Linked DNA regions of Homo sapiens. The protein of the gene in region 4 purifies or fractionates together with the protein of the main gene of each other region. This does not show direct contact. Each region holds a gene or a part of one and is shown on either strand. Other genes may lie near its edges. The genes, in order: ECH1, SLC27A4, NEURL4 and MAPK6.

Region 1 (7,969 bases), on a different chromosome or scaffold from region 4:
GCTAATATTCTTTTTTTTTATTTTTAGTAGAGATGGGGTTTCACCATGTTAGCCAGGATGGTCTCGATCTCCTGACCTCGTGATCCGCCTGCCTCGACCTCCCAAAGTGCTGGGATTACAGGCGTGAGCCACCACACCTGGCCAGAAGACAAGGATTTTAAATCAGTCATTATAACTATGCTCAATGGCAGGAAGAAAAACATGCATGACAAAAAATATACAACTGACCAGGCACAGTGGCTCACGCCTGTAATCCCAGCACTTTGGGAGGCCGAGGGGGGCCGATCACTGGAGGCCAGGAGTTCAAGACCCGCCTGGCCAAAATGGTGAGACCCCGTCTCTACTAAAAATATAAAAATTAGCCAGGCGTGGTGCCGGGTGCCTGTAATCACAAGTACTCAGGAGGCTCAGGCAGGAGAATGGCTTGAATCTGGGAGGTGGAGGTTGCAGTGAGCCCAGACTGCACCACTGTACTCCAGCCTGGTCAACAGAGTGAGACTCCTTCTCCAAAAAAAAAAAAAAAAAAAAAAAAAATTAGCTAGGCCTGGTGGCGGGCATCTGTAATCCCAGCTATGCAGGAGGCTGAGGCAGGAGAATTGCTTCAACCCAGGAGGCAGATGTTGCAATGAGCCAAAATTGCATCACTATACTCCAGCCTGGGTGACAAAGCGAGACTCTGTCTCAAAATAAATGAATAAATAAAATAAAATAAAATATGAACCAAATGGAAATTGGAGAATTGAAAACTACAATATCTGGGCTGGGCGTGGTAGCTCACGCCTGTAATCTCAGCACTTTTGGAGGCCGAGGCGGGCAGATCACGAGGTCAGGAGATCGAGACCATCCTGGCTAACACGGTGAAACCCCGTTTCTACTAAAAACACAAAAACTTAGCTGGGTGTGGTGGCAGGCACTGGTGGTCCCAGTACTCGGGAGGCTGAGGCAGAAGAATGGCCTGAACCCGGGAGGCAGAGCTTGCAGCGAGCCGAGATCGCACCACTGCACTCCAGCCTGGGTGACAGAGCGACTCTGTCTCAGAAAAAAAAAAAAAAGAAAGAAAACTACAATATCTGAAATTTAAAATCAGTGGGTAGTAGCTGGGCACGGTGGCTCACGCCTATCATCCTAGCACTTTGGGAGGCCCTAGGTGGGTGGATGACCTGAGGTCAGGAGTTTAAGACCAGCCTGGCCAACATGGTAAAACTCCGTCTCTACTAGAAACACAAAAAATTAGCCGGGCGTGGTGGCGGGCACTTGTAACCCCAGCTACTTGGGTGGCTGTGGCAGGAGAATCACTTGAACCCAGGAAGCAGAGGTTGCAGTGAGTTGAGATTGCACCATTGCAACAAAAGCAAAACTCCGTCTGAAACAAAATAAAACAAAATAAATCACTGGATGGGCTTTACAGAAGGATAGAGATGACTAAACAGTTAGTAACTGTGACCAGTGGAAATTCTCCAATCTGAAGAAAAGGTCAGTGGGTCAATCCAAAGATCCAACTGACCTGTAACTGGAAATCAATTAGTGAGTTGAATAGTTGCACGAAAGCATGTTATTATATTATATGCTGACACAGCTATAGGCTGAGAGGTTAAGCATGTTGTTCATGGCCACAGATCCAGGATGGAAACCTAGACTTCAGAGCCTATGATCCCATCGTGTTCTGTCAGACTAATACTTATATTTGAATGTTTTAAAGTAGGCCTTTTTTTAAAAAAATGATAGGGCTGGCCATGGTGGCACCTGCCTGTAATCCCAGCATTTTGGCAGGCTGAGGTGGGAGAATCGCTTGACCTCAGGTATTTGAGGTTACAGTGATTTATGATTAGGCAACTGTACTCCAGCCTGGGTGACAGAGAAAGATATTGTCTCCAAAAAAAAAAAAAAAAACACACAGATAAAAGTGTGAGTTAGGGGCCAGGAGCAATGGTTCAGGCCTATAATCCCAGCACTTTGGGAGGCTGAGGCAGGCAGATCATAACGTCAGGAGATGGAGACCATCCTGGCCAATATGGTGAAACCCCGTCTCTACTAAAAATACAAAAATTAGCTGGGTGTGGTGGCCCACGCCTGTAGTCCCAGACAGAAGAATTGCTTGAACCCGGGAGGTGGAGGTTGCAGTGAGCTGAGATTGCGCTACTGCACTCCAGCGTGGCAACAGAGCAAGACCCCGTCTCAAAAAAAAAAAAAAAAAGTGTGTAAGTCAGAAGCTGCTTAAAACCCTAATTCAGAAGCACTGCTCCACTGTCTATTGCCAGGAGCTAGGAAGGCTGGCAGGGTGTGTGAAGAGCGTCTGGTACCTGCAGTGAACATTTTTCCTGCACCAGAGATCACCACCGCCCGACAGTCAGCGTCTCTCGAAATCTTGTTGAAGCACTCTACCATCTCTCTGTGAAGCAACGAGTGAAGGGTTACAAATGGGGCGGGAATACCCTGCCCTCATGTCCATCTTCCCACAACGTTCCACTTTCACCCAGTCCCGCAGCCCCGCCTCCCCCCGCAGGCAGGCCTCCAGGATCTGCAGGTCAGACCTCCAGAAGACCTTGTTCATGGCATTCCTCTTGTTGGGCCGGTTGAGCTGGACATGCAGAACATGTTTCTGCGCAGACGTCACACGAAGGGACTCATAGCTGTGGTCTGGGGCTTCACCGAGGGCTACTCCGGAAGCCTCCTCTTGTGCAGAGGAGCCAGTGAGGCGAAGGCTAATACTGAGTCCCGGGTAGTTGGAGCCTGTCAGTCCTGGGGAGAAAGGAACAGCCTTTGATGACCCCAGACTGCAAGACACAGGCCTATCGAATTAGGGAGTCCTTCAAAAGGGAGCACACGCACCCCTGAATTTAGGGGACTCGGGCCCTTCGTGACCCCGGATAGCCCTCCCCGTCCTACATCTGCTATAACAGCACGACAGCGCGACGCACCCCCATAAGGCAAGAGGTGACTCACGCCGGGTCAGTAGGTCGCGGAGTCTGCGAGAAGCCACTATCCCCGCCGCCATCGCCGCCGCCTTCGTCTACTGCGTTCGGACGGAGTAACGTGCCCGTTAGCGGAGGGGGCGGGCACAGAAGGCCGCCATGTTGAGCGAGGGCACCGATGCCGCAACCTGACAGGCAATGACGCCGTTCTTTCCGCCATCTTTACTAAGGGCAGTCGATTTCCGGTTGCCTTACATAGAGCCAGGCTCAGAAATGGACCCTTTGCCCCAGTGGGAACCTGGCCAAAGAAAATAGCTCCTGCAATGGCGTGAACCTGGGAGGCGGAGTTTGCAGTGAGCCGAGATCGCGCCATTGCTCTCCAGCCTGGCGACCGAGCGACACTCCGTCTTAAAAAAAACAAAACAAACAAACAAAAAAAAAAACAGAAAAGCAAACAGCTCCCGCTAAAGTTCATCACACAGCTGTTTCATAATGGTGGAATAATAGGCGACAGCTGAAATGTCCAAGGACATAATTGCAGCAGAGCTTGTAATCATGCATGTATATATCATGTTAACTAAAAATAAAAGAAAACTTGCAGTACTGTGAGTTTACTCAGGTAAAGGAATGAGTACAGACGGGCCAACATTAAGCGCTGACTGTATAATATGAACTCCCACCAGGAGGTCGTACTATTTCCTACTATATGCAGAGGAAACTGGCCCAGGCACGGGAAGACACTAGGTTCAAGGTCGGTGGGCTTCAGAAGGGCTAAAGCAGGATTACCTGGCACCAGAGTTCATGTTCTTAGCCTGGCGCAGTGGCTCACGCCTGTAATACAAGCACTTTGGGAGGCCGAGGCAGGCGGATCACCTGAGGTCAGGAGTTCAACAGCAGCCTGGTCAACATGGCGAAACCCCGTCTCTACTAAAAATACAAAAATTAGCCGGGTGCGGTGTCCGGCACCTGTAATCCTAGCGGGAAGAGAATGGCTTGAGCCCAGGAGGCGGAGGTTGCAATGAGCAGAGATGGCACCACTGTACCCCAGCCTGGGCGACAGAGCAAGATCTCAAAAAAAAAAAAAAGAAGAAAAAAAAGTTCATGTTCTTAAAAAAAACAAACAAAACAAAAAAACCGAAATTCCCTTGGGAAAAGCCAGCTACCAAAAGGCATAAAAAGTACTGTAAAACTGCTGGCCGGGCGCGGTGGCTCACGCCTGTAATCCCAGCACTTTGGGAGGCCGTGGCGGGCAGATCACGAGGTCAGGAGATCGACCTCCTGACCTAGCTAACACAGTGAAACCCCGTCCCTACTAAAAAAATACAAAAACTTAGCGGGCATGGTGGCGGGCGTCTGTAGCCCCAGCTACTGGGGAGGCTGAGGCTGGAGAATGGCGTGAACCCCGGAGGCGGAGCTCGCAGGGAGCCGAGATGGCGCCACTGCACTCCAGCCTGGGGACAGAGCGAAACTCCATCTCAAAAAAATAAAAAAAAAAAGTACTGTAAAACTGCTTAAGTATGCTTTTTGGGGAGACATTGAGCAAGGCGGTGAACAGATGTCTCTGGGCCAGTGAGATTGAAGGAAGTATCTTTCCTTAATGAACCTGTCTCCTGTGTGTTTTCACAGACTAGAAAAGCAGGCTCTTTTGAAAGACAGAACCATTAACTACCCATCAACAGTAGACTGTTTATACCATAGAAAACTCTGAAACCTCTATGCAAAAATAAAAATGTGTGAGAAAAAAATGTGAAGATGTAATAGAACATTTAGTATGATCCTTTGTTCCTTTGGTGTAAGAAAGTATAGCTGGGCTGGGTGCGGTGGCTCAGGTCTGTAATCCCAGCACTTTAGGAGGCCCAGGCAGGCAGATCACCTCAGGTCAGGAGTTTGAGACCAGCATGGCCAACATGGTGAAACCCAATCTCTATTAAAAATATAAAAATTAGCCAGGCGTGTTGGCTCATGCCTCTAATCCCAGCACTTTGGGAGGCCAAGGCGGGTGGATCACAAGGTGAGAAGATCGAGACCATCCTGGCTAACACGGTGAAACCCCATCTCTACTAAAAATACCAAAAATTAGCCGGGCGTGGTGGCGGGCGCCTGTAGTCCCAGCTATTCGGGAGGCTGAGGCAGGAGAATGGCGTGAACCCAGGAGGCGGAGCTTGCACTGATGTGAGATCACGCCACTGCACTCCAGCCTGGGCCACAGAGCAAGACTCTGTCTAAAAAAAAAAAAAAATTAGCGGGGCGTGGTGGCAGGTGCCTGTAATCCCAGCTACTTGGGAGGCTGAGGCAGGAGAATTGCTTCAACCCAGGAGGCAGAGTTTGCAGTGAGCTGACCTCATGCCACTGCACTCCAGCACTTCAGCCTGGGTGACAGAGTGAGACAATGTCTCAAAAAAAAGAGTGTAGCTGGACCTGCACAGAATATGGTGTATGTATGTAATATCTCTGGAAGGAGACTCAAACTGGTAACAGGAAATGAAATTGGATGCTAGGAGACAAACTGGTAAAATTCACTTTTTATCACCTTGACTGGCTTAAAAACAATAAACCCTAGTTGATTTTATTTATGGCTGCAAGATGACTGTAGTTTTTCCTTGTCTAAAGATTGTTTGAAACTTCCCATAGTGAAGCAAAACTTGTTCATCTGCCAAATGATGCTTTTGTGATGTCATTAAATGTTAAAAATGTAAGGCCGGGCGCAGTGGCTCATGCCTGTATCATAGCTACTTTGGGAGGCCGAGGCCAGTGGATCTCAGGAGTTCGAGACCAGCCTAGCCAATATGGTGAAACCCCATCTCTACTAAAAATACAAAAATCAGCCAGGCATGGTGGCACATGCCTGTAATCCCAGCTACTTGGGAGGCTGAGGCAGGAGAATTGCTTGAACCAGGAGGCAGAGGTTGCAGTGAGCCAAGATTATGCCATTGCACTCCAGCCTGGGTGACAGAGCAAGACTCCATCTCAAAAAAGAAAATTTTATTCACAGTAAATTCCCCAGAGTGGGCTATTCTCAAGCACACATGCATAAACTTCAAGGTTTGTGACCTGCTCCTCTGCAGGTCACCTCTTCCCTCCAGTAGGAGTCAAAATCCTTAAACCAGGATCCTTCCGGGTGGTACCCGCCACCGCAAGGCATCTTCACAGATTTGCATCTGCAAGTGGGAAGCTATCTACCGTATGATGCAATTATATAGATCCTTTAAGTTTTGAGACATGGTCTCGCCCTTTCGCCCAGGATGGAGTATAGTGGTGCCATCACAGCTCACAGCTCAAGTGATCCTCCTGCTTCAGCCCCCATGAGTAGCTGGGACTATAGGCACAGTGTGTGCCACCATGCCCACATCATTTTTCTATATATTTTTTTCTCGAGACGGAGTTTCACTCTCGTCACTCAGGCTGGAGTGCAATGGCACAATCTCGGCTCACTGCAACCTCTGCCTCCTGGGTTCCAGCGATTCTCCTGCCTCAGCCTCCTGAGTAGCTGTGACTACAGGAACGTGCCACCATGCCCGGCTAATTTTTATTTTTTTAGTAGAGACAGGGTTTCACCATGTTGGCCAGGCTGGTCTCGAACTCCTGACCGTAAGTGTTCCGCTCACCTCGGCCTCCCAAAGTGCTGGGATTACAGGCGTGAGCCACCATGCCCGGCCCACTTTCTTATTTTTTGTAGACAGGGTTTTGCCATGTTGCCCAGGTCTCAAAACTCCCGGCCTTAAGTGATCTGCCTGCCTTGGCTTCCCAAAGTGCTGGGATTACAGGCATGGGCCACTACATCCAGCTATATATATCCTTTAACCCAGCAATTCCACTGGCAGGAATTTATCTCCTGATCAGTATCAGGGAAGCTGGCCAAGATACTTGTGTAGATACGTGTTACAGCGCTGTTTGCAATAGCAAAAATAGACCTGGAAACTACCCTTTGGGACCAGGTTAAATCATGACACATCCACACAATGATACTGCAAGGGTAAAGACAAGTCACTCTGAAATGATACAGAACACAAAGGTTTTGGGTTTTTTTGACACCCTGTTGCCCAGGCTGGGGTGCAATGACCCCATCACAGTTCACTGCAGCATCACCCTCCAGGGTTGGGGTGATCCACCTCAGCCTGCTAGGTAGCTGGGACTACTGGCATGCGCCACTATGCCCGGCTGATTTTTGTATTTTTAGTAGAGACAGGGTTTCACCATGATGGCAAGGCTGGAAACCTTTTTTTTTTTGAGATAGGGTCTCATTGTCACCCAGGTTGGAGTGCAGTGATGTGATCACTGCACTGTTAACCTCCTAGGCTCAACTGACCCACCTGCCTCAGCCTCCCGAGTAGCTGGGACTACAGGTGTTCCACCAAACCCACCTTTTTGTAGTGACGTTTCACCATGCTGCCCAGGCTGGTCTTCAACTCCTGAGCTCAAAGTATGTGCCCCACCTTGGCCTCCCCAGATTGCTGGAATTATAGGTGTGATGACCCACTGGGCCTGATAGAGCTTGCTCGGGCAGGGCCCAGTAAGAATGCCACTAAGCCTGATGGATTTTCCTCAAAGACTCAATTGCTAGCACCATTCTCAGTCTGCAGCCCACCCTGCTCCTCTTGGGTCTCTGTATGCCTCCAGAGGGCCTGTGACTGTGCTCAGGCCTGCCTGTGTCTTCAGGACAGAGAGGGAGAAAAGCAGACATCCTGGAATCCCAGCAAGTGCTGTGTTTATTTTCCAAACAATTTTATTGAAATGTGCCAAGAGTACATGGGCAGCACAAATGTATGAACAGGAAAAAAAAAAATCACATGTACAATAATTTTTTAAAAGTGAAGGTTAATCTTGGGAGATAACAGTTCCCCTCTCCCTCCCCCTGCAGATTTCCAGCGTTTCCATTAAGGTTAAGTAAGCCTCTACAAACCTAGCATTTAAAAAAAAAAAAAAAAAAAAAAAAAAGGAATACAAGATCTTTTGCAAATAACAAAAACAAAAAATGGCATAAAGGAAAGAGAAATGTCTTCCTGCTCAGATGGGACTCTTCCTAGGCACCTAATTAGGAGGCGTGCTGAGCAGTGGAG
Region 2 (7,855 bases), on a different chromosome or scaffold from region 4:
CCCAAGGCCTGGGAGCCTCAAGTTAGGGAGATTCCCTGGGAGAAGACTTTGACCTTGGAGATGGAGGGACCAGGTACTATTGCCAGGGTACGGGTGTGGAGCAGAGGCTGCTGTTCTGGAACTCAGCTCAGCTGCCCTGTGCTGGTAGAGAACATGAGGTCTGGCCTGGGGAGATTTGGGGGACCAGAAGCTCACTGTAGTGTGGCAGACCCCAGGAAAGGCTGGGCCAGGTACTCACAAGATATCGCGCCTGATGGTCTTGATGAAGACCCGGATGAAGCGCCAGCCGCCAGATCCCAAGTAGAGGAACAACAGGGAGAATCCCACCTGGGTCCAGGGCAGTTTCAGCACCAGCTTGGAGAACAGCAGCACCCCCACCAGAGAGGCTCCAAGCAGCATTGTGGCCTGCGGACACAGGGCAGTTAGTGGACCCAAACACCCAACCCTCCAGGTCTCCTACCTCCCAGCCCAGACAGCCAGGCCACTGTGATCCCAAGGGGACAGCCTGTGGTAAGGCTTAGCCATACTGAGTTGGGTGACTGACCACAGGGGTCCCTTTCCAGGCTTGGCCTGGAAGGGGCAGGCTAGGGGCTTGGCACTTGAGGTGAGGAATTCCAAGAGTGAGAAGCAGGAGGCTGGTTCTCGTCTCATAGTCCCATCTCTGCCCACCATTCTCCAAGTGACCTTGGGCAAGACCTTTTCACATTTTAGACCTTAGTATCTGCCCTCTGTGCAATGGGTGTAGTGAGACGTGTTCTTTTTTTTTTTAAGTTTTTAAACTTTTTATTTGCATATTAAAAAAACTGTGCATTCCAATAATTAAAATCATTTGAACAAAAAAAAAAATGGCACTCTGATTAAACTGCATTACAGCCTGCAGGACACCTTGGGCCAGCCTGGTTTTACTCTAGATTTCACTGTCGTCCCACCCCACTTCTTCCTTCACCAACAAGCAAGTTCTTTCCTTCCCTGCCAGCCAGATAGACAGATGGGAGAGGCAGGCGCAGCCTTCGTTGTCAGTAGTTCTTTGATGTGAAAGGGGCAGCATAGTCATTTAAACTTGATCCAACCTCTTTGCATCTTACAAAGTTAAACAGCTAAAAGAAGTAAAATAAGAAGGCAATACTTGTGGAATGTACAATGCATATTGGCGGTGCACGCCTCATTACGATTCGCTTGCTTGCTTCTCCTGTTCAATCGTTTCTTTGGAAGGCAGTGGATTTTTCTCTTGCATCTCTGTCTTCTTCAGTTTCGACTTATCGAATTTCTCAATCTCAGCCATATCGGGTTTGTCAGACATGGTTGCGGAGGAAAAGCGGAGCGAGGCATGCGAGAACGAGCGAAGTCTGGTCTGCGCAGTGGCCACCACCGAGTTGTCCTGAGACGTGTTCTAAGAGGCTTTTCTAGCCAAAACATGACAGTTCACTCTTCTGACATCCAGGGTCCCTAAAACCGGATGGCCTGGGGGTGGGTACTGACTTAAGAGCCTCTGGCTCGCTGGCAGTGGTGGCTCACACCTGTAATCCCAGCACTTTGGGAGGCCGAGGCAGGCGGATCATGACGTCAGGAGTTCGAGACCACCCTGACCAAGATGGTGAAACCCTGTCTCTACTAAAAATACAAAAATTAGCCAGGCATGGTGGCACACACCTGTAACCCCAGCTACTCAGGAGGCTGAGGCAGAAGAATTGCTTGAACCCGGGAGGCGGAGGTTCCATTGAGCCGAGATTGTGCCACTGCACTCCAGCCTGGGAGACAGAGCGAGACTCCGTCTCAAAAAAAGAAAAAAAAAGTCTCTGGCTCGACTCCCCACCCAGAACCCAGGGAGGTTCTGTGGATGACCAGGCCAAGTCAAAGGGGCAGCTCCCTGGAAAAGGAGCCCTGCTTGGTCCCTGCCCATAGACTCAGGTATCGCAGTGCGTCTGTTGGTCTATAGAGGGCGACCCAGAAAACGAGTTAGAGCCTGGAAGTGCTTGAAAGGTGACCGCCCAGGGGGCAAAGCTGATTGAGGGAGGCGAGGAGGACCTTGAAGACACCACCACCCATCACACAGACACACACAGCCACTCGGATGAATCTTTGGGGTCTAGGGCTTAGGGGAAGGCGAATGACTTGACTGTGCTTCAGGGGCTGGGTTGAGCTAGGACTCTTGGGTTCTATTCCTGGAGCTTTGAGGACTCGATCAAGGGGACATCTGATGGGACTGTTTTTCTCCGAGTTTTCCTGTTCTTGGGAGTAGATGAAGGTCACAAATGTGAAATGGCCTGAGAGCCTCCAAGCCAGGAAAAGGGAATGGTCTGGACCACAAGAAGCCCTGGGAGACCATCTCCCCCTCCCCCTCGCGAAAAGCAAAAGCCGGGGGCGGGGGAACTGAACCAGAGTCCTCAACCCCAACGCCAGGGTCCAGGGTCCTCAGATCTCTGGCCTCCCATAGCCCGCCATAGCAGAGGGGCAGGAACCTGTCCTGGAAGGCTGGGGCAAGAAGAGGCCAGAAGAGGGTGACTAGTTCCCTCGGGCCCCTGTCCCGGGTCACGCGTGCCGCCCTCGCCCCTAGACAGCAAGGTAACAGTGCGTCTGTCGGGGAAATAGCGCCGCAGGGCGCGCCCCCCACCTGGGGTCCGCACCGCCACCTCGCCCGACTCGGCCTGGCACATGTCCCCACCCGGGAACCCACCAGCCCGGTCTATGCTCACCCGGCGTCGGCTCCGCCGCGCGGCGCCCCGTCCAGATGCGGCCCGGTTGCAGCAGCGTAGACAGCGTGAGGGGCATTAGCCGCCCCTGGACGCACGGAGCCGGGTCTCAGCAGGGTTTAGCCGGCTCTGCGCCCTGCATGGCCCGGCCGCCCCGCCAGCCCCGCCCGCCGCCCGGCCCCGCCCGCCGCGCTCCTACCCCGCCCGCCTCCCGCACCCCAAACCTGCTGTGCCAGGCCGCAGCACCGCCTGCCGCACCTTCCCCGAAGCCGGCAAGCCACAGAGCCGGCGGCGCAGCGCAGCCCCAGCGCGCCTGACGCCGCTCGGCCCCAGCCCGCCCTGCTCGCGCAACGGCTTCGGGCGGCGCCGCCGCGCGGCACGCTGGGAGTTGTAGTCCACGCCGCGCGGCCCCACCCAGCCGAGGAGACCCCCGAGTCCGCGAGGAGACAGGCGGGCTTCACCCCGGCCCTTCCTCCCTGCCGACCCCGGCCCTTGCCCCCTGCTGTCCCCAGCGCCCGGATGTAGGAAGAGCACCCCAGTCCACACCACAGCCGAAAACCCGGAGCACGCTCTCGGGCCCCGGCCGAGTTCAGCAAACACCCAGCACCACACCTAGAAGCTCGCTAAGAGGGCGGTTTCAGGCAGAGGTGAGCGGGGCGGCCGGGTTCCGCAGCCGGCTCTGTGGCGCAATGGATAGCGCATTGGACTTCTAGCTGAGCCTAGTGTGGTCATTCAAAGGTTGTGGGTTCGAGTCCCACCAGAGTCGAATTTTGATGGCTCCTACTCCCTGACTTTCACCTGCGTGTTTTAAGGACTCCAGGACCTATCTAACAAATAAGGTTCAGAACGAAAATCATAAGTCACACCCAACTTTGCTGCGACACAGCCATAAACCTGGTGTCTAGGTGACTACGAGAAATCCTTTCTCGTACCATGGTGTCTTGTGAGCAGCCTGGCACACCTGTTGGCACAAAGGACACGGATTTGGAGGCCCTTAGTTAACTTCACCATCTATGATCTCTGGTCCCTGCAACAAATCAGTTAACCTATATTTGTCATGCCACCCTTATTTGTCATGCCACCTCCAGAGCCATAGGCGAGTGGCCAGATTCTCGGCCCTGTTGGGACTCTTGGCCTCTGAAAAATTGGTTTCTTGTTAAGTAACCATGTTGGGCATCCACAGTTGCCACTTGTCCTTAAACATTAATAGATCCCTGGGAGGCTGAGGCAGGAGAATTGCTTGAACCTGGGAGGCGGAAGTCGCAGTAAGCCGAGGTTGCGCCACTGCACTCCAGCCTGGGCGACAGAGCAAGTCTCCATCTCAAAAAAAAAAAAAAAAAAAAAAAAAAAAAAGATTCTGGGACTGGCGTGGTGGCTCAAGCTTGTAATCCCAGCACTTTTGGAGGCTGAGGCAGGAGGATCACTTCAGCCAGGAGTTCAAGACCAGCCTGGGCAACATAGTGAGACTCTGCCTCTACAGGAAAAAAAAAAAAATTAGCCAGGTAGCTCTTGCTTGTACTCCCAGCTACTCAGGAAGATGAGGTGGGAGGATTGCTTGAGCTCTGGAACTTGGGGCTGCAGTGAGCTGTGATTGCACCACTAAACTCCACCCTGGGCAACAAAGTAAGACCGTGTCTCAAAAAATAAAAATAAGCTGGGCACAGTGGCTCATGCCTGTAATCCCAGCACTTTGGGAGGTTGAGGTGGGCAGATCACATGACGTCAGGAGTTCGAGACCAGTCTGGCCAACAGGGCGAAACCCTGTCTCTATTAAAAATACAAAACTTAGCCGAGCGTGGTGGTGCACGTCTGTAATCCTAGCTACTCAGGAGCTGAGGCAAGAGAATCACTGAACCCGGGAGGCAAAGGTTGCAGTGAGCCGAGATTGGGCCACTGCACTCCAGCCTGAGCAACAGAGCAGTGAGAGCCTGTCTCAGAAAACTAATAATAATAAAAATAAAGATGAAATTTTGGTCTGATAAGGATTTGGACCTATTTCTTCTGGAATATAGGGTGCCTCCTTTTGGGGACTTGAGTAAATTCCAGCACCACATCCTTCATGGGTATCACCATCAGGAGGCAGAATGTGCAGTGGTATGGGCATGAGCATTGAGTTCGCCTTCTCAGCTGAAAGGTCAAGATTCATTTTGTTCTTACATATAAAAAATGGGACATACTAATTAATAATACCTCACAGGGTCAGCGTGGAGATTTGTGGGGAGTATTTTTTTTTTTTTTCCGAGACGGAGTCTTGCTCTGTCGCCCAGGCTGGAGTGCAGTGGCGCGATCTCGGCTCACTGCAAGCTCCGCCTCCCAGGTTCACGCCATTCTCCTGCCTCAGCCTCCCGAGTAGCTGGGACTACAGGCGCCCGCCACCAGGCCCAGCTAATTTTTTTGTATTTTTTTTAGTAGAGACAGGGTTTCACCGTGTCAGCCAGGATGGTCTCGATCTCCTGACCTCGTGATCCACCCGCCTCAGCCTCCCAAAGTGTTGGGATTACAGGCATGAGCCACTGCGCCTGGCACAACATTTCTTGAATGAATGAAAGGGAGAGTGAATTGGAGGCTCTGACCTTATGCACACCAGGATTCGTGAGTATAATCATGAGTACTTCCACATCAACTACTGAGGTCATATGCAAGTGGGCAGGTGAGAGTTAGCGGGAGGATGCTGGTGACCAGCCACCTGCTCTCCTTCAGTCAGGCTCGTCACACTGGAGAAACCAAAGCAGTACCACCGGACATTGGATCAGGCCTGAGGGGGAGAAGCAAGACAACACAGAACAGGACAGCCTGCCTTTCAGTTGCTTACAGTCTAGCTGGCCGCACAGAGGACAGGTGGAAGTGAGATGGAATAGGTCATCCCTCACTCAGTGCTCACTGTGCTGGTGTCACGCTCATCACAGTATTGTCATTAAAATTTTTTAATTTTTTTTTTTTGAGATGGGGTCTCACTCCTGTTGCCCAGACAATCACAGCTGACTGCAGCCTTCACCTCCTGGGCTCAGGTGCTCCTGCTACCTCAGCCTCCTGGGTAGCTAGGGCTACAGGTGTGCGCCACCACACCTGGCTAATTTTTTGTATTTTTAGTAGAGACGAGGTTTCATCATGTTGTTCAGGCTAGTCTGGAACTCTTGAGCTCAAGTCATCTGCCCCCCCAGGCCTCCCAAAGTGCTGGGACTCCAGGCATGAGCCACCCCCCGCCAAGCTCTACCAACAAAATAATTTCAGAGTGGTGAATGCTCTAAAGAAAATAAGGGCATAGTGCAGTGGCTCATATCTGGAATACCAGCACTTTGGGAGGTCAAGGCAGGAAGATGGCTTGAGGCCAGGAGTTCAAGACCAGCCGAGCCAACATAGCAAGACCCTGTCTCTACAAAAGAAAAAAAAAAAAAAAAAGCCGGGCCCGGTGGCCCACACCTGTAATCCCAGCACTTTGGGAGGCTGAGGCGGGGGGATCACAAGATCAGGAGTTTGAGACCAGCCTGACCAACATGGTGAAACCACATCTCTACTAACAATTAAAAAAAAAATCAGCCGGGCGTGGTGGCAGGCACCTGTAATCCCAGCTACTCGGGAGGCTGAGGCAGGAGAATCGCCTGAACCCAGTAGGTGGGAGGTTGCAGTGAGCCGAGATCACGCCATTGCACTCCAGCCTGGGCGACAGAGTGAGACTCCATCCACTCCCCCCGCCAAAAAAAAAAAAAAAAAAAAGAAACCACTTGACTGGGCACGGTGGCTCAGGCATGTAATCCTAGCACTTTGGGATGCCAAAGTGGGCAGATCACCTGAGGTCAGGATTTCGAGACCAGCCTGGTCAACATGGTGAAACCCCGTCTCTACTAAAAATAAAAATTAGCTGGACATGGTGGTGCACCCCTGTAATCCCACCTACTTGGGAGGCTGAGGCAGGAGAATTGCTTGACCCTGGGAAAGGGAGGTTGCAGTAAGCTGAGATCACGCCATTGCACTCCAGCCTGGGTGACAGAGCGAGACTCCATCTCAAAACAAAAAAACAAAAAAAAACAAAACAAACAAAAAAAACTTAGCTAGGCGTGGTGGCATGCATCCATAGGCCCAGCTACTAGGGAAGCTAAAACAAGAGGATCCTGGAGCCCAGGAGGTCGAGGCTGTAGTGAGCCGTCATAGTGGCACTGCACTCCAGCCTGGGTGACAGAATGAGACCCCATCTCAAAAAATAAATAATAATAAACAGAAGATGATAGCATGGAGAGAGGCAGAGGGGGACTAGGGACTGCTTTAGATGGCAGGAAGCCCAGGAAGACATCTCTGCTGTGACATTTGAGCAGAGATGTGAATGACAAGGAGCTCACCATGTAACAACCTGGGGACACGGTGCTGTTCCCAAAGGCAGGAAGAAGCCTGGTGTGTTCAGGGAGCAGGATGAAGGCAAGCATGGTTTACTGAGATGGGAGAATAGACGTTTCTAGGCAGAAGTTGGTAGGGCCTCACCAGTGATTACCTATAGCCAGTTTGATTTTTCTCCAATCATGAGCTGGTAACACAAATGCCACCCTATACTCAGGAGACCAGACTCCATTCCCAGCTAAGCCTGATGCTTTGTGTCCATCTCACAAGTGCTACAAAGGCCCAGGGTTGTCCAGGCACTGCCTGCCTAGAGCAGGTGAGCTGCTCAGCTGGGCAGTGAAGGCCATCTGTCTGACCTCCGCTGCCACCCTGGCACTGTTGACTTTAGTGAGCTGCAGTGGGGGTGCCTGGGACCCTGGGAAGCTGCAGAAACAGCTGGCAGGTCTGCAGAGACTGGTGAGGTATGGGGACTCACTAGCATGGCCTCCTTTTCCCGCAGATTCAAGGAGCTCAGAACAAGGTTTCCCTCCTGAAAAGTCCATGGTTCTGAGGTGGGCCTCCAGCCTCCCCTGCCCTTCCTCTGCTATTGGGATCCCTGAACCAGACGTGGTGCGCACAGGGAAGGCTGGGGCCCTGGTATGGCAGTGCTGAGCAGGTCTTCAGACAACCCGTGGTTCCAACCCCAGCTCTATTCCTACTGCCTCGTTAGTAAAACACAAGCAAAATACCATCTCCCTCCTTGGGTGGTGACCTTGAGGTGTCAGTGCGATAATGCATCTCAAGTGCTTAGTACTGCCTGACATATAGTACAGTTAGAAACTGATTATAGATAGGGA
Region 3 (7,171 bases), on a different chromosome or scaffold from region 4:
CTCATCATGATGGTGCCTGGGTGATAGTGGACACTTGGGTTCGGGTACGGGGCTTCCTTCCCCTCAGCAACACCAGGCCTGCACCCCCGCCCCTGCCCGGGGCTGGTACCTGACTGGAGGTTGGTCATGGTGGCTGGGTACTCCAAACTGTTGGGGTTGTGGGTGGTGACCCCAATCTCAATGGAGCCTGACCACTTATCAACAAGCTTGTCGATACGGATCTGGCATTGAGGGACAGAAGGGAGAAGCAGGGAATGTAAATGCAGAAAGGGACCTTCAGCCCTTGGTTCTTCCCCAGGGCCCACCCTCCTAGCACCAAGGGTCAATCCCCATCTTTAGCTCCCAGGGATAAGGCGCCAACCAGACCACAGGACTTTGCACACCTCAAACATCTCATTGTCCCGAAGGGGGCGATTGGTCATGACAACCCCATTGTTGAATTCATCCAGGGGCCGCCGGCGCTCAGCCGTCTTATTATTGTTGCTGAGTTTGATGAGGGTCCCGCACTTTTCATGAAAGAGCAGGGCATCGTTGGAAGTGAGAATGGGCGAGGTGGCAGCACCGCTAGATCCCAGGCCTTCCCCTGCCGGTGGGGAGCTCAGGTTCACATTCAGGAGCCCTCCATTGTAGGCAGACAGGATGGTGTTGCTCACCACCTCAGACAGCTCCATGTTGGCAAAGTCTATAGCAGCAGGATGGAAGAAGGAAGCTCGGAAGTTGGGATGAGGCTCTACACCCCCAGACCTGGTGCCTCTCTCCCTACCCCTTCTCCTGAGGGCCCTCCCTTGTCCACCTCACTTCCCACTCCCCTTCCCAGGGCCTCCCCAAAGCCCTCACCATTATGCGACTCAAGGCTGTTAGGAAACGTCTCCGGCCGGGCCTGCGCTGGGGACACCATGAAGGCTGGGGACCAGGTGGGATGGGAGGGGAATAAGGGTTCAGTCCCTGCTTCACGGCCCATAGCCAGGAGAACCCCCCATCCTCTAGCTCCTGCTCTCCCATTCAACAGACTTGGGGATCAGGGTGGCCCTGCCCACACCCAGCCTGTCTTGTCACTCTATTTCCCCCATTCCGTCCCCACCCCACCACCACTGCCCTAGCTGTGTTCTCACCTTCATCTGCAGAGGTCCCCTGTTCAGCCAAGGCAGAGTCTTCAGTGGGGGCCAAGGGCTCGAGGGGAGGTGTGGGGATGGGAGTAGGGGGGCTGAAGCCTGGCTCAGGGGGTAGCACGGTGATCTGGGTGCACTTGCCATAAAGGTCCACGACGGCCCAGACACGAGGGGGCAGGCCTGTGGCAGCCACACCGCAATCCCGCCCATTCACCCAGAGCCGAAGCTCCCCAGCAACTGTGCGCTCCACGCCCACGCGGTCCCCTTCACCAAGCTGGTCCAGGTCCTGACCATACTCCTCCAACACAGAGCGTCCATCTCTCAGCACAGAGCAGCCCGACACTACCCACGAGCCCCCCTTCAGGCCCGTGGCACTGCTTGGAAAGTCCAGCACACTGGGGTCCAGCGCTGTCACCCCAATCTCAATGGAGCCGCTCCAGGAGTTGACCTGGGATAGGGGTATTGGACAGAGGCTTAGAATGGGCCACCCCCCATTCCACAGGCCACCATATCTTCCCACCTCTCAGACAGCTAGCTGGCTTTCTGTCTCTTGGAACACTAATCCAGAGATGCAGACAGTGATTTTCTGGACTCCGTCTTGGTAATTATTTGGGCTTTCCTTTAGCAACTCTGCTCTCTACTCAGTGTTTACTAAACCACTCCTTTCCAAGCCAAGCACAAATTCCTTGGTTCCAACCTCCTGCCTCCTCTAACTTTCCTTGTCTCTATGGCTCTCCAACCATCCAAATTCTCCTACTTCCTATACCCACACCTCTTGCTCTTGTGTATCATTCATTCCTTTCCCCTGGCCTAATTCTCTCCAAAGATCAGGCTCTACCCAGATTCAATCTCCTTCCAAGTTCTTTTTCTGTGAGCCTGGCCTCTTCACTGAATCACACACACCTCCCTCACCCTGGATCTTTCTCCTCACCTATCTTTCTGGCACAGCCTCTGTCCTTCAATGGTTTGTTCTGTTTTTTTGAGACGGAGTCTCACTCACTCTATTGCCCAGGCTGGAGTGCAATGGCATGATCTCAGCTCACTGCAACCTCTGCCTCCCGGGTTCAAGCCATTCTCCTGCCTCAGCCTCCAGAGTAGCTGGGATTACAGGCGCACGCCACCATGCCTGGCCAATTTTTGTATTTTTAGTAAAGACGGGGTTTCACCACGTTCACCAGGCTGGTCTCAAACCCCTGACTCTAGTGATCCGCCCGCCTCGGACTCCCAAAGTGCTGGGATTACGTTTGTTCGTTCCTTGGCATCTTTCTTCACTTGCCATCACATCTCTGACATCTCTCCATCCTCCATGCCCAAGAAATTGTACCAGGAGGTCTGTTCCCAGCCATTCTAGTGGGTTAGCCCTCGTGTCCCTTCCCTGGTTCTGGATCTTGAGAAAACTCAAGCTCTTAATGTCATCTTCAAACTCAATGTTTCTGCTTCATGCTGTCTTCCTGACCGCCCCCTGGTGCTCTATGGTCTTTCTGTTCCCTCTCGGTGCCCGGCAATGTGGGCTACCCTGGCTGTCCTACCCCGTCTCCCTCTAGACGCCTCCCACCACCCTCCACATCTCTGTTCCGCGGTACCAGCGCTGCACCTTGCGGTCGATGCGGACGGTGAAGACGCGTCCATCGCGCAAGGGTTCTCGGCTCAACACCAGCCCGTGGTTAAACTCCTGGCCCGGCTGCTGCCGCCGCGCCGTACGCCCACAGGCCGACAGGCTCACCAAGCGCCCAGTGCGCGGGTGCAGTTCCCCGCCGCTGCCCAGACCCCCGTTGGACCCCGGTCCTGAGCCGCTCCCGCTGGGGCCCCCACCCCCGCCCGGCCCCGGTCCAGGGCCTCCCCCAGAGCCCCCACTCCCACCCGACCCTGCCGCCATCTCCGCTGACACCGGGGCAGCGCGACAGCCGCGCTTGGCGGCACCGTGGCAACCGCGTCGGGCAGACAGTCCGAGGGATACGACCGGGGGGCTGAGGCCAGGTATGCTTTACGGCACTGCCGGGCAATGAAGCAGCCCGCGCTAGGAGCTGGGGACGACCACGATGAGAACAGAAGGACACGGGGTCGGGAGCCTCGCTTTACGGCATAGCGAGGTGACGGAGCGGCTCCGAGGGGGACGAAGACCTGGGCAGGGAGCTTTTGCGACAGTGGGAGAAAGACACGCCCACCGCAGGCATCTTTACGACGGTGGGGTGCTGGAGCCCAAACACTTTCTGCTTTGCGACAGCGGCACCGACGACCCCGCCCTCGCTAGGGGGCGGTGACACCTTGAAGCACTCGCTTTACGGCAAGAGGGGGTGTCTCCCCTCGGGATGCAGGCTCCAAAGCAGCGTGAGCCGAGTCTGGAGGACCCAGAGAAGCGGTAGTGAAAGTCTCTTCCCGCCACCCGACTGAGGACGAAGTGTCTTGCAACAGTGCGGCAGTCCTTCCACTTTGCCTCACACCTCTTCTGATTGGCTGAGCTAGCCGACTGGCGGGGGTGGGGGAAGCTCGCTGATAGTTCAAGTCAAGCCCAGCTTCAACTCCAACTCAACCAAACTATTCCATGTTAAGACCACAAAGAGTCTAAAGAAGTCCCGACAGGCCGTTTCAAGCGACAGCGTTGATGACCCCAAAAGATCTCCCTTAGAGCTATTAACAAGCCCCCTGCCCAACTCCCCGAAGCTCAAGCTCAGGCTGGAGGACCGTGAGGTCACAGTCGAAGCTCCTGGCCTGGCCCCCTGACTGGGATTGGCTGGTTTGGATGAGGGTGGTGATGGAGAAGGGCGGGAACAAATTGCCCAGACAAAGAAAATCTTTGGGTGGGACACAAAGGAAAGGGGCGAGCGGAGGGACCCCCAGCCCGAGTCTCTATATAGTCTTGATTCCGCCCGCCGCAGCTCTGGAGCAGGGGAGAAGTGGACCCGGGACTGAGCCCGAGCATCCCCGGCCGGCAGCGGTGGGGGCGGGGCCAGGGGCGGGGCTACGTGGAGCCGGGAGGCGGGTCAGGATCGCTGAGAGCAGCCCCCCAGTGGGGCCATGGAGAAGGTGGAGTCCCTAGGGGCTGCTGGCGGCCTCAACCGGGATTCCCCTGGAGGGGCAGCCAGAGGAGTGCCCGCAGCGGTCACAGGAGTCGAGGCAGGCGCTGGGCAGCCCTCCAGAGTAGTCTTGTTTCACGGTTCTGGGCCCCACGTGCACTCAGGGGGCTCCGTAACTCATAGTACTGGTTCAAGCTGTCCCTCCGGGGGGATAGTGGTCCTTGGTTCCGGGCCCAGTCAGCACCCAAGGGAGGCTGCGAACCACAGCCTTGGGTCTGGCAGGAACCCTGGTGGATTCAACATCCCCGGGCCTCGAACCAGTGTATCCAGGGCTTCCAGCCCCGGGCCTGGGGGACCTGCAGGGCAAGAGGTAAACAGCCCCGGGTGCAGTCCGCACTCTGGGCCAACTTGCTTGAACCCCCAAAACTCCCAACAGGACCGGCCCCGGAGCATCCTACGAAAGAACAGCTCCAACTTGATGCAGAAATCCCCCAATGTGGAGAAGTAAGGAGCCCAGCTCTGCGGGCAGCCAGCCCAGAGTCGGGAGGGTTCAGGACACCTGAGGGTGGGAGCCAGAAGGAAAGGGGCAGAGCCTTAAGAATGAAGAGTTAGAGTAGGTGAGGGCAATTGAGTGGGAAGTCCGAGGTTCCAGGCTTTCGGGAGAAGAGCAGGTGCCCCATAAACCGTGGCTGCACAGGACTGTGATTATCATTAAGTCTGACCCCATCCCCAGCCTCAACAAGGTATAAGAAACCTGTTTTGAGTCGGAGTGGTGACTCATGCCTGTAATCCTAGCACTTTGGGAGGCCGAGGTGGGCAGATCACCTGAGGTCAGGAGTTCGAGACCAGCCCGGCCAACATGGTGAAACCCTGTCCCTACTAAAAATACAAAAATAAGCCGGGTGTGGTGGCAGGCACCTGTAATCCCAGCTACTTGGGAGGCTAAGGCAGGAGAATGGCTTGAACCGGGGAGGCAGAGGTTGCAATGAGCTGAGATCACACCATTGCACTCCAGTCTGGAAAACAGAGCAAGACTCCATCTCAAAAAACAAACAAACAACAACAAAAACTGTTTTGAATGCCACGCAGGGTAGCTCATGCCTGTAATCCCAGCACTTTGGGAGTGCGAGGCAGGCAGATCACGAGGTCAGGAGTTCAAGACCAGCCTGACCAACATGGTGAAACCCCATCTCTACTAAAAATACAAAAATTAGCCAGGTGTGGTGGCGCACGCCTGTAATCCCAGCTACTCAGGAGGCTGAGGCAGGAGAATCACTTGAACCCGGGAGGCAGAGGTTGCCGTGAGCTGTGATCGTGCCACTGCACTCCAGCTTGGTCAACAGAGCCAAGATTCCATCTCAAAACAAAAACAAAAGCAAAAAACAAAAACAAAAACAAAAAAAACCTGTTTTGAATGACTGGGAAAATGAGGGAGGCCTATGGGGGGGTCATTAGAAGGTCTCCTCCCCCAGCCCCAGAAGGAAGTCTCAGCACTGGGACGAGATGAATATCCTGGCCACCTACCGCCCTGCTGACAAGGACTATGGATTTATGATGGTGGATGAGCCCAACACTCCCTACCACAGGTGCTGAGCCCTCAGCCCCAACCCTTCAGTCCAGAGATTCTTCTCTATTTAAAGGAGGGGACAGGTGGAGGAGGCAGAGCGCCTCAGGGACTGGATACTGCCTGACACCCACCTCCCGGCACTGCTTCCCCCTCCTCTGCAGGCTGCAGGACAGTTTTGAGGACCTCTCTGCCGGCTCCTCCTGCTCAGTGAATCCTGGAGTGCTGGCAGAGAGGTAAGAGTCCTGCCAGAGATCAGCCGGGTTATGGGGCCTCTTCCTTCCCTCAGCCCTGAATTCAGGTCTGCAGCGGGTCTGCTTTCTGACACCTGCAGTGGGAGGTGCTACAATTTCCATCAGGCCTGGATGGGGGCAGGGGTCCGCCAATTTGGCCTCGTTTACCACCTGTCCCCATTGCTATTTTCTTCTCTTGATGCCCCCAACTAGTCTCCTGCCCCTTCAGGATTGCCATGATGGACAGTATCTGCCCCAGGTTCCGCCAGGACTGTGCTGACAGGAGCTCAGGGCCTGCAGACAACTTTTCCAAGATACATGATGTAGGGTCCAGCCCTATGGGGCTTAGCGGGTGTTCCCCACCGTGTGCAGAGACGAGAGATTGTAATAAATTAAGACACAAGACAAAGAGATAAAGAGAAAGCAGCTGGGCCTGGGGGATGACTACCAAGACGCGGAGACCGGTAGTGGCCCTGAACCACTGGTTGCGCTGATATTTATTGCATACAAGACAAGGGGGCAGGGTAAGGAGGGTGAATCTTCTAAGTGATTGACAAGGTGCAGCAAGTCACGTGATCACAGGACAGGGGGCCCTTCCCTTTTAGGTAGCCGAAGTAGAGAGAGAAGGCAGCATACGTCAGCGTTTTCTTCTATGCACTGATAAGAAAGATCAAAGACATTAAGACTTTCACTATTTCTTCTACTGCTCTCTACTACGAATTTCAAAGAGGAACCAGGAGTACGGGAGGAACATGAAAGTGGACAAGGAGCGTGAGCATTGAAGCACAGCACCACAGGGAGGGGTTTAGGCCTCCGGATGACTGCGGGGAGGCCTGGATAATATCCAGCCTTCCACAAGAAGCTGGTGGAGCAGAGTGTTCCCTGACTCCTCCAAGGAAAGGAGACTCCCTTTCGCGATCTGCTAAGTAACGGGTGTCTTCCCAGGCACTAGCGTTACCGCTTGACCAAGGAGCCCTCAAGCGGCCCTTATGCGAGCGTGACAGAAGGTTCACCTCTTGCCTTCTAGGTCACTTCTCACAATGTCCCTTCAGCACCTGACCCTATACCCGCCGGTTATTCCTAGGTTATATTAGTAATGCAACAAACAGTAATATTAAAAGCTAATGATTAATAATGTCTATAATAATGATTGATAATTGTCCATGATCATCTCTATATCTAATTTGTATTATGACTATTCTTATTCTAACTATTTCTTTATTATACTGAAACAGTTTGTGCCTTCAGTCT
Region 4 (7,145 bases):
CTTTGGAAAAATAAACAGTATACACAGAAAAACCAGAGGATGGGGTGGGAAATTTTTTTTCTTTTATTTTAAAAATTGAGACAGGGTCTCGTTATGTTGCCCAGACTGGTCTTGAACTCCTGGCCTCAAGCGATCCTTCCACCTCAGGCTCCCAAAGTGCCGGGATTACAGGTGTGAGCCAACGCACCCAGCCCCACTCTTAAACTGCCATTCTCAATCTTTTTCCCCCTCTCAATCTTATTTTAAGCCACCTTGCTAAACGTTGGCTGTTTTAAAATCAGTCAAAAGATTTATCTTATTACCAAGTTTCAACTTAGAACTGTACATTCAGCTTATCTTTAAAAAAAAACCATGAAAAATAGTGACTAATACCTATTTCAAATTGTCTTTATTAAAACAGAAAATTCACATAAATCACAAAGCACAATATATAATTATGTTTTAATAATTCTGAGTGAAACTTTCATATTCAGAGCCATATCTGATTAAATATTAAATATAAAGATAACTTTCACATAACCAATAAAAACATAAGGTCAATTTCTACCGACACCATAAAAGTACTATCTGTCCTTTATAAACAACCTGTAACAAATCTCTCTCAGCAGTAGCCAAAAAACTGCTAGTATCAAACATTTAATTTCAGCACCTGACCAGAAATTGGTTTTACCTTTCCTCTCAGCAAATGTTACACAATTCCACCTGTAGGGTATATGATATCCTTTTAAAATGCAATTTAAGAAGCCATTACTTTTTTAGAGAAACTGCTGTTCCTCTTCAGAAAAAATGAGAGAGAATTTCAATGTGGACAGGAACATTTTAGCCTATCATTTAGAAAAAAATACAGTGTATTTAAAAAAAAAAAAAAAAAAAGCCACGTAGCAGTCCGTGGGCAGCATGAGTCATCATCCAACTCAAAACTTGCAGCAGCACTTGTAAGCTTCCTCCTACCCGACCCCCATCCCCTTCAGCAAAGTACCCTGAGTCAGCAAACCTTACTATTTTGTCAGTTATGATTCTCACGATGCTTTAAATGAATTTATGTAAAGCACTGCAACACTTTTAGTGCTAACATTAGTCTTTAGAATGTGTGCATTTTTTTATTACAAAATTAACTGACTTCAAATCACTCTTCTCTGGATTTTTTAATAACAGAAAGTAGCCAACGACTACTTCTAATCCTCTTTTGCAAATAAATGAATTCCAGAATATCCTCATATACGAAGTTTTTTCTAAAATAGTCTCCATTTTCCAGTGTTTTCTTCTCAACAGTAATACCTAGGTGATCAAATATGTTCTGCTCAAATCTGGCATATTTTCTAGATTAACTGCAATTACTGAATTCAGGACATCAATGAATAATTTTACAAGCTTAAGGCAATTCTTAATAAATGATGTAACATATGTGAAATGACTTTACAATCCCTGGCACATAGCAAACACTTCATAAACATGTTTGAACAACTACTATCTAAAGACAAAGTTCCTTTCACCCAATTCAAAATTATTTTTTAAACATTAAAATCTGATATTTCTATGAAGAAATTCCTGATTTCAGGGCCAGGCCCTGTTTGGACCCTACATTCTTCTGGTCAGATCATTCTTTCCATCTCAGTTTTCCAGCGTTAAAGAGGGAGGACATGTGCAATTGGAACTGTAAGAGACAGGCTAGAAGAATCAGCCATCAGAAAATTACTCTGAAGCTGCTTGCTCTTCATTGTATGGCGTGTTAATTTTTCCCCTTGACAAATCATCTGTATCCGTTAAAAAAAAAAAAGTCATTACTGAGACTGCATCTTTAGCAATGAACACGAATTCTGCCGTTAATACAAGTAGGCTTCTAATTCCAACTCACCAGTCCCTTTCACTGGACCTTTTCCAATGAACAAGCAAAAGAAAAAATAAAACAGGAAAGGAATCAAGAAGCTCCCGCTGCACAGAGATCCCCCTAACACCTAAACCGGTTGGGTCCTACACTCGCCAAGAAACAAAAGGATGCCAAAACACCTTTACTTTTCGACACAACTCACAAGGCGGACTAAAATGCACAGCAAAGTGACAAGGCCCTTTTTGGTGAACCGACAAAACAAGCTTTCATTTGGGCACTTTTACAGACCACCACTTAAGGTCCCGAAAGAAGCTAAGGAAAGACTGTAGGGCCGAGGGAGGAAATTAGGAATTTCGTCTCCGAGTTTTCAGTACCTCATTCATGGCAAGACTCAAAACTTGGGCGGACTTCAGGGCTCTGAGACGAGCCGGGTGAGCGCTGCGCGCTACGCCACTGGAGACTTTGCCCGGCCGGAGTCAGCTGAGGCCGAGTCACCGGGTGGGATGGGGGAGGAGACGCGGGAGCATTTCGAAAGGCAGCGTGCCAGTAAGGCGAGACTCCACGCCACCTCATGTTCCCCGGGCCGCCGCCCCTCGCTCGCCCGCCCTCCGGTCCGGTCCGGCTGGGTTTCGAACCCGCGGAGCCAGGCGCAGGCGGCGGGACGGCAGCAGGCGTGCGGGGCCAGGGAGCGGGCGCGGCCTGGCAGGGCGACCGGCGAGGGGCGTGCCGGGTGGGAGGGGCGCGCTGGCCGCCTGGCCGGCCCCACGCGGGGACCCCAGCCCGCCGCCCGCCCGCCCGCGCGGGGACGCGCCGGCCAGGCCCGAGCGGGCGGGCAGGCGGGCGAGCAGGGGGCGGGCGGCAGACCGAACAAAAACGCCTTTGTTGAGCGGCAGCCGCCGGAGGGTCACACACAATGGAGGAGGGAGCCGGCTCCGCCGTCGCCGCCGCCGCCGCCGCCGCCGGGCCCGCCGCGGCGCCCTCCCGAGCCGCCCCGCCGGCGCACCCCGCACACGTACACACACACACTCACGGGACTTCTCCGACTCATCGAGAGAGTGCGGGGCTCGCGGACTGCCCCCAGTGTCGGCTCAGGTCTCCGGCTGTGCTGGCGGCAGCGGCGTCTCCGAGGCTCTCGCTTTGCCGCAGTCGCCGCCATGTAACCCCGACCCGCGAGAGAGGGCGAGGAAGAGGGGGCGGGGCTTCGCGGTGCCACGCCCCCTCACGTCACAGGCTCACTCCACGGGTTCTCCCGCCCCCGCCCTGCCCAGCGCACCCGCACGCGCCGGAATTTCCAGCGCCCGTGACTGGGCTGCGCGCGCCGCGGAGGCGGTGGGAAAGGCACGCGGCTCGTCCGGCGTCTCCTGGGGGCTTTGCCTGCGGGCGGGCAGGGAGGAAGACAGCTGGGGCCGTTTGCTCTACTACCTGCCCTGGCATTAAGGGAACAAAGTGACCAAACCCAGTGCCAGCGTTTACTAAGCACCTACTACGTGCAAGGCACTGGGCAATCCGAGAGGAAGAGGCCTCAGTCTCCAGGAAGGGTGGACCTTAAGATGGATTGGCTGGAAGGCGACAGCCCGAGCACAAGACAGACGCGTTAGAGGCCAATACTAAGGTCATTCATTCTGCCAGAGTATGGAGGAAGGCTTTCAGGAGTGGTCGCCAAGGTGGCCTTTCAGCTGGATCCCGGAGGAGCGGATATAACCAGGAGGTGGGGAGGGTGTTTCTGTGAGCAAAGACTGGGAGGCCAGAGTACCTGGCTTGTTGCAGGAACTGGGATAGGACAATTTGAATTTGGGAAGGGATGCACTATGAAACGTAGAAAGGTGGATGGGTGCCTTCTTGGGCCCACTTGGCTAAAAGCAAACTTACATTACTTATCATGGCTTATTGAGTCCAAGGAGCCTTTTCAGTGTTTATGTGAAATTTAAGTATTTATGAAATTAGAGACGCAGGTCAGCATATTTTTTCAATGACTTCATCACCATCTTGCTGAGAACCAGACATAGAATAGCCCTTCTAGTCATTATTATGGGCATCTTCAAGAAAGAGGCAAAGACCACTTCAAAAAGATCACAAAGGGCCAGGCGTGGTGGTTCACGCCTGTAATCCTAGCACTTTGGGAGGCCGAGACGGGCAGATCACCTGAGGCCAGGAGTTCGAGACCAGCATGGCCAACATGGTGAAAGCCCCGTCTCCACTAAAAATACAAAAAGTAGCCGGGTGTGGTGGCTCACACCTGTAATCCCAGCTACTCGGGAGGCTGAGGCAGGAGAATAGCTTGAACCCCGCGGGGGGTTGCAGTGAGCCGAGATCGCGCCAGGACACTCCAGCCTGGGCGAAAGGGCGAAACTCTGTCTCAAAAAAAAAAATCACAGAGTAATGAAGTTAAGTGGTTGGGGTGAGCTTGAATGCTTTATATTTTTTAATATTTAAAACAACGTCAGCTGAGTACCAGGTGTGAAGAAGAGGTAATGAGTGAAAAAAACCAAGAGAAAGGGGAGACTTGTTCCAACCGCAGAATTTCCAGCTTCTGCAACGAGAGCTCGTACCTTCAGCCCCACTGCCTCTGCTCTAGGCTCTCCTCTGATCCTCAGGACATTTTTCCTCTCACTCTTTGAGAACTCGTTTACCTTCCTTTTCCATCAATGTCTGATCACCCAGAGAAGGTGGGAGAATAAATACCAAGCACTGTGCCTTCCCTCAAGGAGCATTTAATCCAGTGTCACTGCTGACTTCCTGTGGATAATGCAAAGTTGGCTTACAATAGTAAGGGAGACCACTAAATTGACAGAATCTTTGTAGCATTTCAAAAGGGTGTCAGGCCTCTGAGCCCAAGCTAAGCCATCGTATCCCCAGTGACCTGCACATATACATCCAGATGACCTGAAGCAACTGAAGATCCACAAAAAAAATGAAAATAGCCTTAACTGATGACATTCCATCATTGTGATTTATTTCTGCCCCAACCTAACTGATCAGTGTACTTTGTAATCTCCCCCACCCTTAAGAAGGTTCTTTATAATCTCCCCCATCCTTAAGAAGATTCCTTGTAACTCTCCCCACCCTTGAGAATGTACTTTGTGAGATCCACCCCCTGCCCCCAAACCATTGCTCTTAACTCCACTGCCTATCCCAAAACCTGTAAGAACTAATGATAATCCACCACCCTTTGCTGACTCCTTTTTCAGACTCAGCCCGCCTGCACCCAGGTGAAATAAACAGCCTTGTTTTTCACACAAAGCCTGTTTGGTGGTCTCTTCACACGGACACGTGAGACAAAGGGGAGGTCAAGGATGGAATAATTACAAGATTTGGGGGATCTGGTTTTTGTTTGTTTGTTTGTTTGTTTGTTTTTGAGACAGAGCCTCGGTCTGTCGCCAGGCTGGAGTGCAGAGTGGTGCAATCTTGGCTCACTGCAACCTCTGCTCACTGCAACCTCTGCTCAAGCGATTCCCCCGCCTCAGCCTCCCGAGTAGCTGGGACTACAGGTGCGCGCCAGCACACCCAGCTGATTTTTGTATTTTTAGTAGAGACGAGGTTTTACCATGTTGACCAGGATGGTCTCGATCTCCTGACCTGGTGATCCACCAGCCTTGCCCTCCGAAAGTGCTGGGATTACAGGCATGAGCCACCACACCTGGCCCAGGGATCTGGTTTAAGACTGGTTTTTCAGTGAGGGGTCCTGATTGGGTTTGGGACAAATTTGTGTTATAATAGTTTAAGGTGGGTGGGCAGAGGAGGGGGAGAGTTTTGAAGAGAGCCTAAAGGGATAAATAGTTGTTAAACTCAGTAGAACAGAGGGCTGTTTACCCTGATGAAGGCAAATTCTGTGAGTAACTTAATGAGATAAATGGATTTTAGGAAGTTCCTGAAACCACAATCAAGTTATTTGCAACTCCACCTTTTTAGGCAAGAGTTTCTTGGAATTCAAGTTATATTTATTGCAGATAGTTGAATTGTAAAGTCATGTCAATGTAGTTGGTTTTAGTTTTTTTGGTGTTTTTTTTTTCTTTTTTTGAGATGGAGTTTTGCTCTTGTCATCCAGGCTGGAGTGTAGTGGCACGATCTAGGCTCACTGCAACCTCCGCCTCCCGGGTTCAAGCAATTCTCCTGTGTCAGCCTCCTGAGTAGCTGGGATTACAGGTGTGCACCACATGCCCAGCTAATTTTAGTATTTTTAGTAGAGACGGGGTTTCACCATGTTGGGCAGGCTGGTCTCAAACTCCTGACCACCCGCCTTGGCCTCCCAAAGTGCTGGGATTACAGGAGTGAGCCACCATGCCCGGCCAGTTTTAGTTTGTGTGTGTGTGTGTGTGTGTGTGTGTGTGTGTGTGTGCGCGCGCGCGCGCGCGCGATGGAGTTTGGCTCTGTGGCCCAGGCTGGAGTGCAGTGGCAGGATCTCAGCTCACTGCAAGCTCTGCCTCCCAGGTTCAAGGTATTCTCCTGTCTCAGCCTTCCAGTAGCTGGGATTACAGGGCGCGCCACCACGCCCAACTAATTTTTGCATTTTTAGTAGAGAGGGGGTTTCACCATGTTGGCCAGGCTGGTCTTGAACTCCTGACCTCAAGTGATCTGCCCACCTCAGCCTCCCAAAGTGCTGGGATTACAGGTGTGAGCCACCACGCCCAGCCCGGTTTCAGTTCTTAATGCCATTCTGGGCTGGGCGCGGACTCACGCCTGTAATCCCAGCACTTTGGGAGGCTAAGGTGGGCGGATCACCTGACCAACAGGGTAAAACCCCATCTCTACTAAAAAATACAAAAAAAATTAGCCGGGCGTGGTGGCGTGCGCCACCCAGCTACTTAGGAGGTTGAGGCAGGAGAATTGCTTGAACCCGGGAGGCGGAGGCTGCAGTGAGCCGAGATCATGCCACTGCACTCCAGTCTGGGTGACAGAGCGAGACTCCCTCTCAAAAAAAAAAAAAAAATCCCATTCTGTGGCTATAAAAATTTCAGTGCTTGGCCAGATGCGGTGGCTCAGGCCTGTAATCCCAGTACTCTGGGAGGCCGAGGCAGGTGGATCACCTGAGGTCAGTAGTTCAGGACCAGCCTGACCAACATGGTGAAACCCCGTCTCTACTAAAAATACAAAAATTAGTCAGGTGTAGGCTGGGTGCGGTGGCTCATACCTGTAATCCCAGCACTTTGGGAAGCTGAGGCGGGTAGATCACATGAGGTTAGGAGTTTGAGACCAGCCTGACCAACATGGTGAAACCCCATCTCTACTAAAAATACAAAAATTAGCCGGGCCTGGTGGTGCATGCCTGTAATCCCAGCTACTCAGGAGGCTGAGGCAGGAGAATTGCTTGAACCCGGGA

Evidence for each region.
Region 1: the proteins of MAPK6 (region 4) and ECH1 purify together in Homo sapiens (affinity purification with mass spectrometry; 3 studies listed by BioGRID and IntAct, with this or other methods). This does not show direct contact.
Region 2: the proteins of MAPK6 (region 4) and SLC27A4 purify together in Homo sapiens (co-immunoprecipitation; 2 studies listed by BioGRID and IntAct, with this or other methods). This does not show direct contact.
Region 3: the proteins of MAPK6 (region 4) and NEURL4 purify together in Homo sapiens (affinity purification with mass spectrometry; 7 studies listed by BioGRID and IntAct, with this or other methods). This does not show direct contact.

What each region holds. Positions count from the first base shown.
Region 1 is NC_000019.10:38,828,778-38,836,746, forward strand, and holds the start of ECH1 (delta(3,5)-Delta(2,4)-dienoyl-CoA isomerase, mitochondrial precursor), read right to left. Parts: upstream 3,018-7,969; 5' UTR 2,996-3,017; coding exon 2,944-2,995; exon of another isoform or gene 2,919-2,943; intron 2,740-2,918; coding exon 2,532-2,739; intron 2,390-2,531; coding exon 2,301-2,389; intron 1-2,300. Other genes in the region: HNRNPL (heterogeneous nuclear ribonucleoprotein L), read right to left, coding at 7,945-7,969. UniProt on the Homo sapiens protein: Isomerization of 3-trans,5-cis-dienoyl-CoA to 2-trans,4-trans-dienoyl-CoA.
Region 2 is NC_000009.12:128,335,677-128,343,531, reverse strand, and holds the start of SLC27A4 (long-chain fatty acid transport protein 4), read right to left. Parts: upstream 3,006-7,855; 5' UTR 2,694-3,005; intron 1,376-2,693; exon of another isoform or gene 1,167-1,375; coding exon of another isoform or gene 1,140-1,166; exon of another isoform or gene 772-1,139; intron 406-771; coding exon of another isoform or gene 400-405; coding exon 239-399; intron 1-238. UniProt on the Homo sapiens protein: Mediates the levels of long-chain fatty acids (LCFA) in the cell by facilitating their transport across cell membranes. Appears to be the principal fatty acid transporter in small intestinal enterocytes.
Region 3 is NC_000017.11:7,326,328-7,333,498, forward strand, and holds the start of NEURL4 (neuralized-like protein 4), read right to left. Parts: upstream 3,009-7,171; 5' UTR 2,986-3,008; coding exon 2,704-2,985; intron 1,558-2,703; coding exon 1,113-1,557; intron 904-1,112; coding exon 838-903; intron 683-837; coding exon 384-682; intron 222-383; coding exon 110-221; intron 17-109; coding exon 1-16. UniProt on the Homo sapiens protein: Promotes CCP110 ubiquitination and proteasome-dependent degradation. By counteracting accumulation of CP110, maintains normal centriolar homeostasis and preventing formation of ectopic microtubular organizing centers.
Region 4 is NC_000015.10:52,015,090-52,022,234, reverse strand, and holds the start of MAPK6 (mitogen-activated protein kinase 6), read right to left. Parts: upstream 3,017-7,145; 5' UTR 2,859-3,016; exon of another isoform or gene 671-2,858; intron 1-670. UniProt on the Homo sapiens protein: Atypical MAPK protein. Phosphorylates microtubule-associated protein 2 (MAP2) and MAPKAPK5.